Linked DNA regions of Homo sapiens: region 2 is linked to region 1. Evidence: fine-mapped expression QTL. Tissue or cell type: esophagus muscle. Region 1 holds a variant in brackets; the other region holds the start of a gene. All regions are shown on one strand. Distances are between the middles of the regions.

Region 1 (10,860 bases):
TTTCAGTTGGAGTGAAACTACCCTCATTACCTCTGTGACTCGAGCAGGTTAGACAGTGAGCCAAAAGAGCCTGGTGGACATACTGGAAAAAGCAGAGGAAATATTGTGTTTCAGAGTGTTCATGTAGACAGTCTCTGTTAGGCCTTCAACTTCCTCTAGCACAGTTTTAAATTAAACACAGCCTTTTCTGTGCAGGGGCCTGGTGGGGATAAACACTGTTCCTGAGCTGTTTTCTAACCCACTGTGGACTCTTCAGCACTCAGGAAGAACTAGGTAGCAACAAGGAAATTCAGCTGTTTCCTGGTCCCCAACTCAGAGCCAGCAAAATGGGGGAACTGGTGAATTTTGTCTTCAGTGCGGGGGCCTCCCTCATGTTGGCTTCCTTCTCCATTACTCCAGAGTCAGCAGCCTGTTTTTGTATGGCCTGTGACCTAAGAATGGTTTTTACATTTTTAAATCATTAGAGGGAATGGGAATCAAAAGAAGAATATTTTGTGATACATGAAAATCAAATTTCAGTATCCATAAGTTTTACTGGAACCCAGCCACACCATTTATATGGTGTCTATGGCTGCTTTATAGCTACATCAGAGGTGAGACCATATGGTCTGCAAAGCCTAAGTATTTACTATCCGGCTCTTTATAGAAGACATTTAAACATTTGGGACCCCTGCCTGACCTTCTGCTCCTAGAGCAATCCTTCACACTGAGGTGCAAATGACTGATAACAGCTTAAACTGCTAACTCCCCTTTAACCTTTCAGAGGAAATTTTAGATTGCAATAGGGAAAAAACTTACGAAGGAGGTAAAACCGAAGAGTTAAAATTGGGGTGGGGGGACAACAGCCAGGGGTTGAAGAAAGATGTTTTGGAGCGGAGAATTTCCCCTGAACCCTGAAGTTTTGCTCTCAGATATATCACATATCAGAAGTTCTCACTGGGTGGGGTCTACACTGCAGATGGAATCAGGAATTTTCATCACATACATAAGAATTCCCTCTTCCTCTGTCCCCAAGTCTACTCACAAACACTTTCCTCACCTGCTGCCTCTGCTTGCCAATCATGTGGCTGTCATTTTTTAAAACTGATTATCTTTGTGCTTCATGATGAAAGTAGCAGCAACCTTTGCACCTCAAAGGATTATTAGAAATTCCAGCTGCTGATGGAATTACACCTTTTGGTTTCAAATTATAATTTGCCTTTATCACATAGCTTGGTCAAAACTCTCAGTTGAAAATGACAAAAAGCCAAATCAAATTGGCTTAGCGAAGAAAGAATATACAGGCTTCTGTAACTGGAAAGTCCAAGGTAGCTCTAGCTTCAGACATGGCTGGATTCTGGTGTTAAAAGGCGGAATGCATTCCTGGATCCAGCCCTCCGCTCTGCTTCATTCTGGGTTGATTTCATCCTTGGACAGGCTCTCCTTGTCTCTCCTTGGAGGCCATATGGCCCAGCAGCTCTGGCTGGCATCCTGTCTTACCCAGCAATCCAAGCAGAAACAGAACGATTCTTCCAATAGTTCCTGCAAAAATCCCAAGGCTGATGCCTGTTGGTTGTGATTGGTGGGGCTTAGGGAATGGGTCTGCTGTTTGACCAGCCCCTGCACCGGGGGCGCCTGTATTCACATTAGCTAGGCTGGGTCCATGCCTTTCCTCCTGCCACATGAGCTGACAGGGAGACAGGGTGGCTCCCCAGAGGAAAATCAGTGGGGGCTATCGCTAGAAGAAGATGGGATGGAAGATGGGCAGGCAAAACAACAGCAGCCTATGGGCCAACTATAAGCTGTGAAGCCCTTAAAACATGCATAATGATAAATAGAAACACAGAAGGCCTAAACTCACGGTGGGGCTGGGATTTTTGATGGAACATAAAATAAGAAGGGTTGACCTCGACCTGCCAGGACCCTTTTCACCCCACTGCCTGGCTTTGGCTTCTTGGAAAGACTGACCCCTCCATTGCTTCTTGCCCCATAGAACCTTAAGCGGGTGGCCGAAGTGTGGATGGATGAGTACGCAGAGTACATTTACCAGCGCCGGCCTGAATACCGCCACCTCTCCGCTGGGGATGTCGCAGTCCAGAAAAAGCTCCGCAGCTCCCTTAACTGCAAGAGTTTCAAGTGGTTTATGACGAAGATAGCCTGGGACCTGCCCAAATTCTACCCACCCGTGGAGCCCCCGGCTGCAGCTTGGGGGGAGGTGAGTCTGGAGGGCAGGGCTGGCTCCATAATTTAATGGGTGTGCAAAATGCAAATGCAGATCCCATGTTCAAAAGGTAGAAAGTCAGTGCAGGGAGGAAAGGCGTGAATATAAAATCGTTTCCTTTCTTTCCTGGTCTCTCTCTAGCCTTGTCATGGTGTATTTTTACTTGTTAGTTAGTGTTCTCAGTGTAGAAAAATTAAAACTTTAAGTTATTAGCATGAATTTTACCTTTCATCTTTATATTATGCAGTGACAATTTAAAATTCAGATTAACAGCATGTAACTCATGTTCAGAATGGGTGAAATGACATGATCTGTATTTCCCACCTGCTGCATGCATAAGTATTTCTCACCAGAACAATCTAAACATGGCACACAACAAACTCAGCTTTTTACTTCACTTCTTGATAATGTGCATATTCTTCCAACACTCTCCACCTTCCATTTACTGATGAGTAAGAAAGGGCTGGAAGGCAAAGGAACTAAGGAGCCAGGCACAGTGGCTCAGGCCTGTAATCCTAGCACTTTGGGAGGCCAAAGCAGGAGGATGACTTGAGCTCAGGAGTTTGACAACATTTTCCTATGGGAAACATAGGAAGACCCTGTCTCTACAAAAAAAAAAAAAAAAAAGAAAAAATTAGCCAGGCGTAATGGTATGTGCCTGTAGTTGCAGCAACTTGGGAGGCTGAGGCAGGAGAACTGCTTGAGCCCAGGAGGTCGAGGTTCCAGTGAGCTGTGCTCGTGCCACTGCACTCCAGCCTGGTGACAGAGCAAGACCCTGCCTCGAAAAAGAAAAGGAACTAAGGGTTGCCCTATCTTTCCCTTTCCTTCATAAGTTCTTGGCTAACACGGGGCAGTAACGCAAGTAAGAAAGAACATGACAGGACTTGTTGGTCGTTCCTGCTTCTTAGGATGCTGTTGCCCTTCTTAGCACACCCAGAGCGAGTTCCGGTTTGAAGGGAAAGCAGGGCCTCTGGGACCCCCAGCGCCCCTATTTATTCAGTGTCTTCGCACATGCTGCATGCAGACAGGGCAGAGAGGAACAGCGTGCTTCTCTGCTCATGCACACGCTCCAGTGTCCCATCAGATTTCACTTACAAAACAGTTCAAAGATAAAATTATTCAGAATTTCAAGACAGTGGCAGCAGAGCTTTAAATCAAGCCAGGCCCTCCTGAGCATGGGGACCTGTGAACTGCGCATGGTGTGGCCCGTGAGGCCCATGCTGGCCGAGGCAGACCAGTCTTTGCAAGCAGACGAGCATGCCACCATGGGATCCTGGGTCTCTGAGCTGAGAGGACCTACCCATTCATTGATGGATAGGTTGGAGCTTGGAAAAGGGGAGCATAAGAGTTGGGGCTCTTTCAGAAGACCAATTTAAAGTAAAAAAAAATGGGGGGAATATATTGTGTTTGACTCACATATGAGCCTGGGGTAGCTATGGCTTAAGACAACCTGGATCCAGGGCTTCAAATGATGTCAGTCTCTTCTTCTCCTGCTGAACTCATGTTCCTTTTGTGTTGGCCTCATGCTGAAGGTATCAAAATGGCTTCCAGAAGCTTCAGGCTGACCAACCCCTACTGCTTGGCCAACCCAGCAGAAAGTATATGCCTCTTTCCCAGTATACCAGTAAAGGTGCAGGAATCAAGTCTTATTCTTGGATCCTGCACCCATCACTGGGGCCATCGGGGAAGACGAAAAGCAAGGGTAGGATGGACACTACGGCTGGCCACAGGGCGCGTGAGGAGCAGTAGCCCCATGGAAAGTCAGGGTGGTGTTACCAGAGGAAGGGGAGAGGCATGGTGGGCTGGCAGGAACACCAGCTGTGATTTGCTCAAATTCACACAGCAGTCACAGAGCCCTTGCCTGGCTCAGCTGCCTGGCTAGCCTACCCCAACATCACCTCCAGTTTGCAGGAGCACTGCTGTGTGGACTTCCCTCATGAGGCTCTTTGGCTCTTTACTAGTTTGTTGGCTTCCTCACTTGTGTTAGTTCAAGTCCTCCAAGAAGCAGATGCCACAGTGGGATTAGACACGCAAGAGATTTATGGTTAAAACACTTGAGAGGAAAAATGAAGACACCTGGGGAGACTAGGAGAGCCATGAGACCACAACAGTGGTCTTACATCTGTGAAGGGGTGAGGGAAGGAAGGAGAGCCGGGATAGGAAGAGTCCAGACTGCAGT[A/T]AAGCTGTAAGGAAGCTTTGGCCAGGTTGATGAAGAGTCCCCAAGCCAAATCACCAGCCAGAGGAGTTCAACATCTCGCAAGAGTGGGTCTGCCTCACCCATTGGCTGGGATCCATCCATGGGTGGACACAGTGGTGGATTCAGAATACAGGATCTGGGTGCAATGAGACTCTCTGCAACAGGAAATTGGGTGGTGCATTTTCATAGCCACCACAGCCCCCTATCCCTCAGATAAAGTAGGATTGATATCTGTAAGGTTGGAACTACATGATGTGACGCTATGCACCTAGCACAATGGCCTGCCCACAGTAAGTGCCCAATCGGTATTTGTTGGCTAAGCAAGTGAGCAGCCTAGGGCTTCAGACTCCTAGCCCAGTGCTCTTCCCACCACACCCGTCTTCATGGTTGAAGGGGAAGAGGCAACTATTGTTCTTTGGATCTCAGCAGGGGGTGAGGGGGCCTCCTGCCACCTCTTGCCATTCACCTGTCCTAAGGGACAGAGACAGTCCATGACATACAGCAAAGGTTTCATGTCCTTTTCTAGGCGCTTTCAAGGTATGGTCCCTGGACCACCTGCACCTGAGTCACCTGGAATGGGGGTAAAATCTGGTTCCTGGACCTGTCGGTTCAATTTCTCCAGGAGTAGGGCCAGGGAGTCCTTTACCAACTCCTCACCTCCACTCCCCCACCACCAACCCAGGACTCTGCATACTCTACAATACTACTTACAGCAGTGCTTTAAGGATTACATTCTGTGGACTGAGTCTTCCTTCATTGAGAGGCTCAAGGTACTTCCAACAGCCCAGGGCAAGCTTTATCAAGACGATTTGAAGGTTAATCCAGCTAATGTCTCCCACTTGGTTTCCCCTTTCACCTGGCAGGGACCCGGTGGGCACCTTAAGGCACCTCAGTGGTCCACTTCTTCCCTCTTTCCCTTTCAGATCCGAAATGTGGGCACAGGGCTGTGTGCAGACACAAAGCACGGGGCCTTGGGCTCCCCACTAAGGCTAGAGGGCTGCGTCCGAGGCCGTGGGGAGGCTGCCTGGAACAACATGCAGGTAAGGGCCGCCCCTCAGGGACTGGCAGCCAGGTTCTCTGAAACATCTGCAGCCTGGGGTGCTGACACGGCCAGCTGGGAGGGAGAGGCATGGGTCAGTGATAAATGACAAGAGTCAGCCCCGGGGATGAGTTTTAAGATCTTCCTGAACACCGTGGAAAGGGGATTCCTTCACATTGCAATAAAACCATCAGTCTGGACCATTTTGGTTACAAATGATGGACACTCAGCCCAAATGGCCTTCAACAAAAAGTGCGTTATTGTCTCATGTCCCTGAAAAGCCTTGATGATGTTGCTGGATCTCTCAAGAGAGTGCTTCCCTCTCTGCGGGCCTCATTCTCAACCTGGCCCTTCCTATATAGTAGCAGATGTGGCCATCAGCAGCCCCATGGATAGGCATGCCACTTCCAAGAGTTCTGGAAAAGCCCTGGGGCTCCCATGAATTGTGTCCCTGAGCTGATTATGCAGGAAGTGAGGAAGTCCTCATATTGATGAGGACAGAGCCGTCACTTTTGAGAGGTGATGGGTGTGTTCATTACCTTGACTCTTGGAGCCTAGGGGCATGGTCAGCCTCACCTGCAGGATGGGTGGGATGCAGAGGGTAAGCCAGCCTGCAGGAAGAGCCACTGCTCAGACAATAGTGGGCTCATGCCTGCAATCCCAACAGTGTGGGAAGCTTAGGGGAGGCTTGCTTGAAGCCAGGTGTTCGAGGTTACAGTGATTGTGCCATGCACTGCAGCCTGGGTGGAGTGACATTGGGATAAACAATTATATTTTAGATACAACAACAAAAACACAATCCATAAAAGAAAAAATTGAAAAACTGGACTAATTCAAAATGAATAAAAAGCAATCCACAGATGGGAAGAAAATGTTTGTAAAGCATATATCTGATAAAGGACTTGTATCTAGAATATATAAATGAAAGGACTTGTATCCTCTCAAACTCTCAAAAGTCAATAATTTTTTTAATTTTAAAGCGGGCAGATACTTTACCAAAAAAAATATATGAATGGCAAATAAACATATTTAAAATGCTGAATTTCATTAGTTAATAGAGAAATAGAACTTGCAATTACAAGGAAATTCCAGCACACACCTATTAAAAAGACTGACCACACTGAAGATTGGCAAAGATGTGGATGAACTGGACCTGTATGCTGCTGGTGGGAGTGTAAATGGCAGAGCCACTTTGGGAAACTGTGGCAGTTTCTTAGAAAGTTGACCATTGAACCAGTCATCCCACTCCTAGGTATTTATCCAAGAGAAAGAAAACATGTGTCCATACAAAGACTTGTACACTAATGTTCATAGCAGGTTTATTTGTAATAGCCAAAAACTGGAAACCACCAAGATGTCCTGTAACAAGGAACTGGAGTGCAAATTCAGCAATAACAAGCGATGAATTATTGATAAATGCTGTTAGGACATAGATGATTCTCAACAAAATTATGTTGAGTGAAAGAATGACACAAAAGAGAATACATACTGTATGATTCCTTTATAGAAAATTCTAGAAATTGCAAACTAATCTCTAGAAACAGAAAGCAGATCAGTGGCTGACCTAAGGACATGGGGGTTGGTGGGGACAGGAGGAGGAGATTACAGAGGAGCATGAGGACACTTTTGCGGGGTAATGGTATGTTCATTACCTTGATTATGATGATGGTTTCTCGGTGTAAACATATGTCAAGATGTATCAAATTGTACACTTTAAATGTGTGCAGTTTATTGTATGCCAGTTATTATTCAGTAAAGCTACTGAAAAGTAACAAAGGTTATCAACCAAATGGATCTTGACTCAGACTAACTGTGAAAAGAAATTGATAAGAATCCTGAGCAGGCACGGTGGCTCACGCCTGTAATCCCAGCAGTTTGGGAGGCCAAGGTTGGCAGATCACCTGAGGTTAGGAGTCCAAGACCAGCCTGACCAACGTGGTGAAACCCCTTCTCTACTAAAACTACAAAATTAGCCAGGCGTGGTGGCACACACCTGTAATCCCAGCTACTTGGGAAGCTGAGGCAGGAGAATTGGTTGAACCCAGGAGGTGGAGGTTGCAGTGAGCCAAGATTGCACCATTGCACTCCAGCATGGACAACAAGAGTGAAGCTCCGTCTCAAAAAACAAACAAAAAAAAGAATCCCAAGAACACTTGAACTGTGGATATTTGATGACATTTTGGACCTTGTAGTAACTACTTTTAGATGTTATAATGGCACTTACTGAAGTGTTTATACCTGACATGATATGATAGCTGAGATTTGCTTCAAAATACTGTGAGGGTAAGGATAGGGGTGGAAGTAGAGCTGCAACAACGTTGGCCTTGAGTTGGTAACTTATTTTTTTTTTTGAGACAGAGTCTCACTCTGTCCCCCATGCTGGAGGGCAGTGGTGCAGTCTCGGCTCACTGCAACGTCTGCCTCCTGGGCTCAAGTGATTCTCATTGCCTCAGCCTCCCGAGTAGGTGGAATTACAGGCATACGCCACCACACCCAGCTAATCTTTGTATTTTTAGTAGAGACGGGGTTTCACCACGTTAGCCAGCCTGTTCTCAAGCTCCTGGCCTCAAAGTGATCCACCCACCTTGGCCTCCCAAACTGCTGGGTGAGCCACCGCACCTGGCCAAGTTAGTAACTTTTAAAGCTAGGTGGTTAGAACAGGTTAATATATTATTATTTGGACCTCTGAGTTTAAATTTTTCCATAATTTAAAAAAAATGGAGAAAAAAAGAAAGTCCTTGGCTTTGCTATCCCTATTTATGATGCCCCTGTGCACAGGTATTCACCTTCACCTGGAGAGAGGACATCCGGCCTGGAGACCCCCAGCACACCAAGAAGTTCTGCTTTGATGCCATTTCCCACACCAGCCCTGTCACGCTGTACGACTGCCACAGCATGAAGGGCAACCAGCTGTGGAAATACCGCAAAGTAAGATGGGATGCGGGGGGAGCAGGGCACCTGCTTAATTTTTTTTTAAGGCAATACAGTGCTTCACCCCTTCTTTCAACAGAGCCCATCCACTTATTCATTTGTGCCACAAACCTACCATGCCGGATTTTGTAGTCATTCAAGAGTAGTCAGAAATCTAGACTTCACTGTGAAATCCTCAAGTCTTAAATGTTGGCAACTGATTCCATTTAAAAAGAAAAGTGCAGCCGGGCACAGTGGCTCATGCCTGTAATCCCAGCACTTTGGGAGGCTGAGGTGGGTGGATCACCTGAGGTCAGGAGTTCGAGACTAGCCTGGCCAACATGGTGAAACCCCGTCTCTATACAAAAATCAGCCAGACATGGTGGCTCATGCCTGTACTCCCAGCTACTCGGGAGGCCGAGGCAGGAGAAGCACTTGAACCTGAGAGGCAGAGGTTGCAGTGAGCCAAGATTGTGCCACTACACTCCAGCCTGGGTGACAGAGTGAGAACCTGTCTCAAAAAAATTAAAAAAATTAAAAAAATAAAAGATAAAAGGAAAGCACATACACACACACACACACACACACACACACACACACACACGATAAGGACCAGTGAGGTCTGACAGGAGGTGGGCAGTGTCTAGGTCCCAGGCCTGGAAGCTGCGTGCATCACTTCTGGCCACATCCCAGCGGGCAGAACCCAGTCCCACGGCAATACCAGCTGCAAGGGAGGCTGGGCAGCATCCGGCTTGTGAGCTCAGGAGGAAAACCAACAGGTGTATGAACAGCTAGTCAGTCAGTCACTTCCTCACTTTCTCATTGCTGGTATTGTTGCTGTGGTTTGACTGGCCACATGTCTCCAGTGCTGTCTGGCTTATTACCTCCATGTTTTGTAGGACAAGACCCTGTACCACCCTGTCAGTGGCAGCTGCATGGACTGCAGTGAAAGTGACCATAGGATCTTCATGAACACCTGCAACCCATCCTCTCTCACCCAGCAGTGGCTGTTTGAACACACCAACTCAACAGTCTTGGAAAAATTCAATAGGAACTGAGCCCTCATGTCCCCTTGGCAGGCCCCCCAGGGTCTGGCACTCACTGCAGACTTCCTCTTTCAAGGGAGGCAGGGCCCCTGTGGGCACTAGGTGTAAAAGGTGCTGGCCAAATGGTTCAGGGTGAAGAGGGCTCTTGATTCAGGGGCTGGGGTCTGCCTGGTCCTTGAGCCCCTGAGTTGTGGGGGTAGGGTGAAGAGCATATCCCACAAGAGGCCCCACAGGGAGCAGAGACTGCTTTAATCCCTGCTGACATCACGGAAAAGCAACAGAGCCTTTTCAACTTTGTCACTATGTCCCCTTGAACATTATGTGGGAGAACACCAAGGTAGCCTAGGCCACCCAAAAGTGAGTCCTGCGAGGTTGCCCAGCCCTCAGATGGCTCTCCTACATGATGGTGCTTTAGAAACAAAGGTAAAATTTGCCTGTTTGGGGCAGCTTTTAGTATCGATGCCACTCATCTGCAGCAGAAGAGAAAGAAGTCCTCTTGGGGCTTTTTAGTTTCTGCCGTCCTGGGGGGAACATTGCAGTTACTGCACAGCTTCTGTTCTCTGTCACAACCCCAGGTGATTTGGTCCGGTCAAAGGCCATACTTGGGGCCCTAAGAGTGTTCAGTATTGAATGCTGATCAGCTGCCAGGTGAGGAGTCAGAAGAGGGAGCCCCCCTAGACATTTCTTTGCAGCTATGGACATGCGGGATATCTCCCCCTGCTCTCTGGGTATTTGAAATGTCAATTTTAGCACTCTCCAGGCACAAGGACAGCCCAGCACCAGCTTTACAGGGCAGTGTTTCAGATGGCCCTGAGCCCACGGAAAAGGCCAGGTAGACCTCCAAACTAGAAATGCTGGCTGATTTGCCCTGATCCATGCTTCCATTTCCCTGTCTCTCTTCCCCAGGCAATTACTGGCCTCAAAAGAGGAACAGAGGTGCTGCGAGGTGCTCACCTCACAGAGTCTGGAGGCCTCCAGGATCAACTGTGGGCAAAGTGCCTGCCTCTGACCTCATCATGGTTCTAGTTCTCATACAGAACTCCAGAATTTTTAAAGAACTCTATAATTGGATTGCAAACTAGGATGCTACATAGGATTCTGGTATTCCACATCCAATATGGATTTCTAGAATGCTGTGATTAAAGGAGCCAGCCAGGTGTAATACAGTCAAGGCAGCCCCCAGCCTAGAGACAATCTGTGAAATCCAAAGTTGGTGGTGTTGGGAAAGCAGGGGGACATGTGTCCCTCAGCTCAGCAGAGGCTGTGGTACAACATGGTCCTTGGTGAAGACCTGCACCCCTGGAACCTCCCACCATCATCACAACTGTAGTCTCATTTGCAGTGGAGAAAAGAACCCGACGTCCCACAGCCAGATATACACCCAGCTCCATGCCAGCCCTTCATGTTTACCTTTTGCTTTGTTAATTACATGTCAGACTCCTAGAGGGCCTCCAGACTAATAGGAAGC
Region 2 (9,430 bases), 33 kb after region 1:
CTAAACCTAATTATGACTAATTAAGCCAATAATAGTATCTAATATTTATTGAGTACCTAATATGTGCAAGGCACTTTTATATCTAATAGTTGGTTTATATCTAATAACTCAGACAGTCTTCACAACAATCCCGAGAGGTTACTATCATCCCCATTTTACAGATGAGGAAACCATGGCAGACTAAGGCCATGTAATTTTCCCAAGGTTCCCAGGCTAGTCAGTGGCAGAGCCAGGATTCCAGCATAAGCTGACTACATCTAGATTTATACCAACCATTATGCTGTACTGCCTCTTGATTCCAGAGGCCAAGTCATCCATCATCCATCTATCCATCCATTCAACAAATATTAATCAAGTGCCTGGGCACTGGAAACTATGATGAGCCATAGAGACAGTTCCCTGTCCTTGCAGAACTTCCAGTCTCAGAACAATGTGAAAGGAAAATGAATCTCGGGACACCAAAATCACTAAGGCAAAGGGAAGAGTCAAGCTGGAAACTGCATCAGGCAAACCTACCTCTTATTTTATTCCTAAGTTAGATAGCTACAAAGATAAAAAAGCTACAGACCTCCCTCACAATTTGCCCACAAGGAAATTCCTTGTGGGCATCAAGATCTTTACCCTAAAACAGTTCTGTTGAATTTCACCCTGGCAATGTAAATGGATAGCTTATCTTCATAGGTGTGGGACAAAGGACAGAACTCAAAGTCATCCCTCTGCTCACCTGAGACAAATGAATATCTGATTGCTTCTTCTGCCCTGTTGTTTATGTAAAAATGCAGATCCACTGAGACAAAGGCATAAATGACTATTCCTCTACCACCCACCTCACCCCTTCCCCACATGTAAATTGTATATTCAGTGAAACGCTGAGCAAAGACTCAAAAGAATGCAACCATTTGTCTCTTATCTATCTATGACCTGGAAGCCCCAGCATCAAGTTGTCCTGCCTTTCCAGATGGAACCAATGTACATCTTGTACATATTGACTGATGTCTCATGTCTCCCTAAAATGTATAAAAGCAAGCTGTATCCCAACCACCTTGGGCACATGTAGTCAGGACCTCCTGAGGCTGTGTCACGTGCACGTCCTTAGCCTTGGCAATATAAACCTTCTAAATTGAGACCTGTCTCAGATACTTTTGGTTCATGCCAACATATCTATGAGTACCTTACAGAACCCAAGGGCAAGCTCAACTACCAGGCCCTGGGGAACACAGGAGGCAGGACCCACCATTAGTGCCTCTGCTCTAACCACTCCCACCAACCACCTGTCAGTTCCAACCAGCAGATTTGCTGGAGAGAAACTGACCAGTACAGTTTGAGCCACAGGCTTAACCCAGCAAGTATTCACTATTAGACAATCAGGGGCCACTCAAGGATTAGAAACCCAGTCACTGGACACCTAAGTGTCCACCTGTTCCCAAAGAAGGGCAGTCATTGGAAATCACTCCCAGAGCCATATGCCACATTCCCCAAAAAGGGAAAAGAGGAGAGAAAGAGGAGAGCAAAGAGCTTTTGTAGGACTGTGACTGCTTGGCCAAGGTATCCAACTCTGATTCTTTAAGGCGTGTTGGGGGATAACTTCTCAACTGGGGCCTGACTGGATGGAAGGAATGAAGGTGGGGAGGGCAGGGGCAGAAAAGACAGGAAAGAAAAAAAGGGTCAGTGAGCCTGGCCCTTAGACCTTGGAAAACTTTGTAGTCTTTGACCACAATTCCATCTCTGGCACTCAGAAAAAATAATAATCCTAAATAATAAAAAGTTTTATGTTCAAAAATAATTATACAGAACCACACAAAAAAGATATCCAACTTCTGGGGGGGCAAATGTAACTACGGTAGGAATCATGATAGCTGACATTTATTAACCACTTATGATGTTCTAGGCACTGTGTTAAGAATTTGTCACCACCTATTTCATCAGACTCAAGAAGTGAAATAATTGCTAACATGTTATAACAAGTCATGGGTGGAGTCCAGATCTGAACCCAGTTCTGACAGCAAAGCCAACTGTCTTTAGCACCACAGTGTACTGTACTACAGAAACTGCACTGTACTACATAAAAAATGGCAACTGTGAAAACTACATAGCAATATGGGGAAAGATTATGATAAAGTATGCCTTGAATAAAGACTACAAAATTATACATAAAGAATGGCTGGGAGCGGTGGCTCACACCCGTAATCCCAGCACTTTGGGAGGCCGAGGCGGGCAGATCACCTGAGGTTGGGAGTCCGAGACCAGCCGGACCAACATGGAGAAACCCCATCTCTACTAAAAATACAAGATTAGCCGGGAGCAGTGGTACATGCCTGTAATCCCAGCTACTCGGGAGGCTGAAGCAGGAGAATCGCTTGAATCCGGGAGGCAGAGGTTGCGGTGAGCCGAGATCGCGCCATTGCACTCCAGCCTGGGCAACCAGAGTGAAACTCTGTCTCAAAAGAAAAAAGAAAAAAGAAAAAAAAAGAACAGTTACAAGCATGAACTCCCCCACCACCACCACCACACACACACACACACACAGAGGCTGGCTGGGCGTATCAGGCTGGGTGTAATCAGGAAAGAGTAACCTTACAGTAATTTGAACAGGAAAATAATAATATAAACATGTATTAATTATAATAGGGGACTGTAGTCCCCTACAGTTATAAGGAACTGCCTAGTAAAAAGAAAAAAGAATGCTAAATAATACAAGAATAGCAGATATAAGTAGCCACTACCTCAAGGACTGAGACAGAGCACCTAAGAAAAGGTCCTAGATCCCCTTAGACCAGGGCAAGTTGGTGCAGAAGAAGTTGTGTACCGCAATAGCCTAGCATTGAATACAAATGCTGTTTAGAAAAATATGGGGAACATGGAGGTTTCATCCATACCAACTGACTTTGGACCCAACATCACACAGTGCCTGGTACAGATACCCAAGTGTTTTCTACATATATGTCTGAACACCCCAGATAGGAGATATTCTTTTAGGGCAAGGGTTATGTTTCATCCTCCTCCTATAGCCAACCCTATACTTGGTATACATAATGAGTTCAACAACAATTTACTTTTGAACAGAATATATGAACTCTGAGGGAAGACTCCTATTAATCTGTGCCTTTTTTCCATTAATTTTTATTCTATTTTTTCTACTGTAAAAACAAAAATAATGCTTATTAAAGAAAATGCAAAGGTTAAACAAAAGGAGAAAAATATCAGCCATATTCCTGCTACCCAGAAATAATCACTGTTAGTACTTTGGTGCATTTTTTATACCAATAGTTTTCTTTTTTCTTTAAACATAGATGTACAGACATCGTATCCTCCATGCAATTTCATATCCTGAATTTTTTTACTTATCATAAAAAAAGCATTTCTCCAACTCCTCATCAGCTCTTTATTTAAGAATTAATGGTGAATTATTCTCTATAGAAAATGTTTACATTGATGTTGAAACTACCTCAAATGCTAACTGCACAATCTCTTTCTGAAGATTTTAGGTAGTTTACTTAACCACTTCCCTTTTGGAACTCTGAGGTTCTATTTTATTTTTCCTATTATAAATAATTCCATAATGAACATCACTGTACTTCATATTATCTCTGATAGGCCTATTTCCGACGATGGCTGTCCCACGTGTGAAATTACCAGTTCAGATGCTACAAATGCATTTATGGCCACTGAGCAAAACTTAAGATCACCAGCCACCTGCTTCTAAACATGGAAACTGGTAGCTTTCCCTTTTACAACAGGACACAAACCCGAAGCTCCTTCTATGCCCTCTAGTACTAACACTTGCTTACCTATCACCTAACACAGCCTCCCCTCTTCCCTGCCCATAAAACGCTGCCCAGCCCTACATAATTACACGACCCTGGGCTGGTCCCATCGCCTTTCGGACCTCATCAGTCCCCATGCTGCGCAGTTGGAGAGTGGCATGACTGAAGTGCTGGACCAGAGCATATCCTACGGCCCCTCCTGGAGGGGAGGTGGTGCCCTGGGCGCCGAAACCAAGCGCAGGGTCTTGGCAGGGCGCAGTCGCTTCGCCGGTAGACCCGGGGACTCAAAGCAATAGAACTACAGCTTGGAGCTCCAGGGAGAGCCCAAGACACCGCAGCCCTTCCCCATCTAGATTCCGAGATTGGCCCCTGGGCCCCACTCCCAGCCTTCACTTCATCTCCCCTGAAGCCCTTTCTCTTGCCCGCGGCTCACCTAGTCCACCCTCCAGACCTCATTCGGACTTCCCATTCTTCCCAGTGGAGGGGTCGCCCAAACCCCTCGGGGTCTCCTTTCCCCCTCTCCTTTTCTTTCCGCGCCGTCCAAGCCAGTCCCACTCTCCACACTCTGGAAGGTATCGGCTACCCCCAATATTGCGACTGCCTTGCAAGATCCCCCCATCACCTCCTCCGCATGTCTTTCCACGTATCTGTATGGGGTTGTCCCTCTGTCTTTCCCGCCATGACTGGCTTTCCGTCCTATTTCACCCACCCTTCCTCCCACGGATCCGCGAGTCCTCTGGCCCTGGCCCTTTCATTTTATTAGTCCGCCCCTCTCCTGATAGCACCTCTATCCTCTTTAGGTCCCCTCATATGCCCCTCCTCCAAGTCTGTCCCTCAGCGTCCCCGTCCGCGTCTCTACTGTCTGTCCCCGAATGTGTTCCTCTGTTCCTGGAGTCTGGCCCTCGGTCCAGCCAGGCCCCTGCTCACCATCCCTCCCCCGGGCCGGAGAGTCTGCAGCCCGGTTCCCGGTTCTCGCTGGGGTAACTCTTTCCTCTTCCACTTTCTCTACTTTGAACCCATCCCAGCAGAGTCCAGGAAGTAGCCTGGCGCCGGAGACTGGCGGCGGCGACGCCCAATGGGACGCGCCAGCGGCGGCGGCAGCCCCGCCCAGAGAGCAAATGAGACCAATGGTCGCGTGAAGGCGGGACTTCCGCTGTCCCGCGAAGGGCGGGGGGAGCGAACTGTTGTGGTGCGGAGCGTTCGGCGGGCGGCGGCCGGGCGGCCCAGGGGCTGCCGCGGGACTCGGGGCGCAGCCGAGTGGCTGCAGGGGTGGAGTGGGCCGGACGAGCCGCGGGGCCCGGGTGCCGCGGGTTCGAGGCCGGGCCCCGCGCGAGGAGGCCGCGCCACCCCGGGGGAGCTGCCCGGCAGCGAGTTTGCCCCGCTGCCGAAAGAAGGCGGGAGCCGGCAGGGGCCTTCGAAACCCCCTGGCAACCCAGGCCCGGAGTCCTTGGGGAGCGGCTGTTTCCTGGGACGCCCTCCCGGACACCCCCGCTGCAGGGTTACGGTTCTGGGCCCCCGGCAGAAGGCTCCTCCGGGTGACCCCCGGCGGGGCCCTGCGAGCCGCGGGAGCCGACCCCGGGGCCTCGAGCCGGGAGGAAGGGGGCTTCCGGAGGCGGAGGGCCGGGGGCCGAGGGAGCCGGGCCTCTCGGACGCGGGGCAGGGCAGCGCCCGGGCTGGAGACGGACTCTGGGACCCTCGGCTGCGGGGGTCTCAGCGACCTGCCCCGCGGCAAGCGCGGCCGCGGAGTGGCCTACCGGGGACCCTCCCCCAGAGGGACCGGCCCGGGGCGGGGAGATGAACGGCTTCAGCACGGAGGAGGACAGCCGCGAAGGGCCCCCCGCCGCCCCAGCTGCCGCCGCCCCGGGCTACGGCCAGAGCTGCTGCCTCATCGAGGACGGCGAGCGCTGCGTCCGGCCCGCGGGCAACGCCTCCTTCAGCAAGAGGGTCCAGAAGAGCATCTCGCAGAAGAAACTCAAGCTGGACATCGACAAGAGCGTGAGTCCGCCCCCGCTCGCGTCTGGGCCCCGGCGCCCCCAGCTCTCCGTCCGCTGCCCTGGGCTCCAGTCGGGACTCCCCGGGCACTCCCCGCCGTGGGCCTCGCCGCCCCGGCTCTGCAGAACTGAGTTGGACTCCGCATTTCAAAGGCCGCTCCAGCGCTGACATGCTCTGACTGTGATTCTACCCAGATCCGGGAGGATGGGGGCGGGGGCTTCAGGACTCCTGCTGCCTGGAAAGATTGGACAGCAGTTTCCAACTTGTTTTATTGGTTTAGACTTTAGAGCAGGGAGAGGTGGGTTAGTTTTGTTGGCCCTTGAAGGAGCAAGAATCGGAGCGGGGAGTGATGAAGATACCCGGCTCTTTTCCAACTTCTCTCTCCTTCTAGGAACCCTGTTATTCCTTCAGACAGAGAAAGGTGGCAGTTACTTCCCTGGCTCCCGCATCCTCGGTATCAGCAGAGGGTCACCGAGCTAGCTGCTTCGCAGGCAGCTGTGGGAATGGGTTTTTCTAGGATGTGGCAGAAATAAGGCCAAGGCCAGGTCTTGAGAAATGGCTCTTGCAGTCGATGTGACTGGAGGGGGGAAGAAAAGAAATCAATTTTCTTAGTGGTAGTTTCTTTTGAAATAAGGGGGTGGATATTTAAATTTAAATCGGATTGCCCTGCTCTTTGTGGCTTATTATAGGAAACTCCTCCCGTGTGACTTCACCACTTCTAGTTAACAATTCTGAAGCTGTGCCTATTGTCAACCAATTAAGAACTTTTTAGTTTGACATCTGTTGCTACAAGCCTTAAGTGATTGCTTCATGATTAGGAATTGGAAATGAGTTAAGGGGATATTTAATATTCAGGTAGACTAGCTAAGAGCTTAGGTGGTTAACATCCATTCTCTTCTAGAATCAGAATTTCTCCACAGTTGGAGGAAATCAGAGACTGCTTGTTAAACTGAAAGGGAGTGCACGTTTCCCCTCTGATTTTAGGGTTGAAACAGGCCCAGAGATAGGAAGTGAGGGTGTCAGGTACACACAGCACCTAAGAGGCTGGTTAATTTCTTAAAGATATTATCTAATTTACTTCCAAGCCCTATACATAAGTCTTCATTAAGTCTCTAATAAATAAAAAATCTCCCCTGTCCTTTTTCTTTTCTTTTTTTTTTCTTTTTCTTTTTTTTTTTTTTTTTTTTTTTTGAGACGGAGTCTCACTCTGTCACCCAGGCTGGAGTGCAGTGGCAAGATCTCGACTCACTGCAACCTCCGCCTCCCGGGTTGAAGCGATTCTCCTGCCTCAGCCTCCTGAATAGCTGGGATTACAGGCGTTTGCCGCCATGCCTGGCTGATTTTTGTATTTTTAATGGAGATAGGGTTTCGCCATGTTGGACAGGCTGGTCTTGAACTCCTGACCTCAAATGATCCACCCGCCTAGGCCTCCCAAAGTTCTGGGATTACAGGCGTGAGCCACTGCGCCCAGCCCCTGTCCTTTCTTCAGACTCTTCCCTCCTACCCCCATTTTTAAGTTAATCATTATAATACAGTTGCAGCTCTTGCATGGACAGGTGCTATTTTTAAGTGGTTGGGAGAGAGTTAATGGCTTTCTTACTACAAATCTCTATCAATGAATGCATGAATGGAAATATCTGAGAACAAACAAGGGTCTAGACACCAAGGTGATCCCTCCTTAGGTCACACGTTGAGGTGAAATGCTTATGGCAATGAATTCATCCACTTAGAAACACTGCCTACCTTCCGTGTAGGTTGTTAGAAGCTGCTTTACTTGAGCAGCTTATAATAATAATTTCCAGTCCTTAAAAGAATCTTCCAGTCCTTTTAGATCACTGGATGCCTTCCCATCTGAATGATTTTGCTGCTGCAACTGGGACTCCTTTTATTTACCCATTGACTGTACTGGAAAACCTGTGTTGAGCTATGCTGATCATTTCACACACACTGTCTAGAAGAAGGGCAGCCTGAGCCTAGCATTAGTGTTCCCAAAATGTAATACTTCTGAGGTAGTAAGGTTTCCAGGTGGAATCACTCAAAATTTGTTTTAAGGTGGTGTTGTGGAGTCATTATTTCTGAAAGGGATTCTATTTCTTTCTCACAGGCTTGGGCAGGAATTCAATTCCAGGTAACTGGTATGTTACAAGAATTTTTAGCTATTGCAGAAAGTGAAGGAAAAAAAAAAACTAGAGCCTTTGCTACCACCCTCCTGCCCCAACCCCACTCCCAAAGGCCACTGAGCTCTGAAATTTCTGAAAACCAGTATGTACTTGAAAATGGTTAAGGAGAAAATGATTATTTATCTTGTAAGAGAGTCTAGCAGAGAACCTTTTTAAATAACAACACCAGAAATTCAATTCAGGCTGTTTAACTCATTTTATATAGACTTTGGCAGTGTTCTGTGATCTGTTAAAATACTAATATACCTCCAGTTGACATATTTCTGCTTTTTTTTTCCTGGAGAAAAGTGGAAGTTGAGAATAGTATAAAGGAAAATGCTGGAGTAGGAAAAGACATGTACTGGGGGGGCAGAAGGCCTGGGTGACCTTGGCCAGGTCATTTCCTCACTCTGGATGGCTTCATTTTACCCATTTAGAAAACGGATTGGGGTCAATGGGATTGCACTAGTGATTGCTAAGTTCTCTTACAGCTAGGATTCCGTTATTCTATTGTCCTGATCTGAAATCTCCCAGCCAAAGCTTTAGGAAGCCACCTATTCTCCCTGTTCTCCTATGAAGTTTGTTACTGTGAACTTGAGGAGCAGTTGATCTGAGTGGACTCGCCAGTCTAGCTAACATGGAGGGCTAGCTTCCTCTCAGGGATGCAGAGTGTGCTTTGTTGTGCTTTCTTCCTGGAGAAAAGCATGTCCAGTAGTATATACATCAGCTAGGTGGGATTCTTTGGGACAGTGGCATGTGCTGTGTTTGAAAGTCCTTTGACAGAGTTGAATCTGACAAAGCTATCCCAGTTTGTAACCATGTTAAGTGGTGGCTTTCATTAGCCTTAAGCCACTTTTAGATATAGGAGACTTCCTATATTGGTACATCAACATTTTTCGAGTACCTCCTGTCTGCAAGACACCATCACAGTATAAACTTAAAAGTACTTATGACTCACTAATCCAGCCACATGAAAGTGATCATTCATCTGAATAAATAAATAAACAGTTTTCATTATTTTCTCCATGAAAAGGTCTGAATTAATTGATGCGGATTTCCTGCCAGCTTACTTTTATCTTTAAGGATTTAAGGAATAAACTCAAATTCAGAAGTCTCTGCAGAACATTTGTGCAACAGCTGTTTCAGTATCAACAACCCCAAGTCATTTGCTGGGCATTCAGTTTCTGTAAAGTTTTTCAGTGGTTCCTCCAGCCAGCCTTGGAGGATTCTTCATGTCTTAGCTGTTGCTGCCACCTTCACTTACCAGTGTGCCTCCAGCCTGTATTAGAAAATCTGTAGTATCCACCTTCTTGTATGTGGTTCTACCTTGTAAGAACTTCCACATCTTTTTCCACTTTTCTTTGTGGATCAGATGTGAGATAATGCAAGAATTATAAATTGACACATAGAAACAAAGTTTTTCAAAGAGTTATTATCCTACAATAGTAGCTATTGTAATTGTAAAAATAGAGTGTCCCAAATACCGTTGCAACAGTCCCTTGTGTCCTGCTTTCC

What was found. PIP is the estimated chance that this variant, and not a neighbour inherited with it, causes the effect.
Region 2: SAP30L starts here. The variant in region 1 is fine-mapped to the expression of SAP30L in esophagus muscle (GTEx, PIP 0.95).

The regions. Positions count from the first base shown.
Region 1 is chr5:154,407,569-154,418,428 of GRCh38, forward strand. It overlaps GALNT10 (polypeptide N-acetylgalactosaminyltransferase 10), which reads left to right. Exons shown (of 12, transcript NM_198321.4): 9 at 1,973-2,194; 10 at 5,321-5,437; 11 at 8,215-8,364; 12 at 9,246-10,860. The coding sequence ends at 9,404. The region is part of intron 2 of SAP30L-AS1 (SAP30L and GALNT10 antisense RNA 1); the gene reads right to left. Among named protein-coding and RNA genes, the nearest start is that of SAP30L-AS1, 33 kb to the right of the region's middle. RefSeq lists an enhancer at 2,816-3,316. The variant A/T (reference allele first, on the strand shown) is at 4,380.
Region 2 is chr5:154,441,047-154,450,476 of GRCh38, forward strand. It overlaps SAP30L (SAP30 like), which reads left to right and starts at 4,951. Exons shown (of 4, transcript NM_024632.6): 1 at 4,951-5,759. The coding sequence starts at 5,559. It overlaps SAP30L-AS1 (SAP30L and GALNT10 antisense RNA 1), which reads right to left and starts at 4,776. Exons shown (of 3, transcript NR_037897.1): 1 at 4,692-4,776; 2 at 2,316-2,434. RefSeq lists enhancers at 4,575-4,694, 4,748-5,248 and silencers at 4,825-5,354, 5,485-5,594.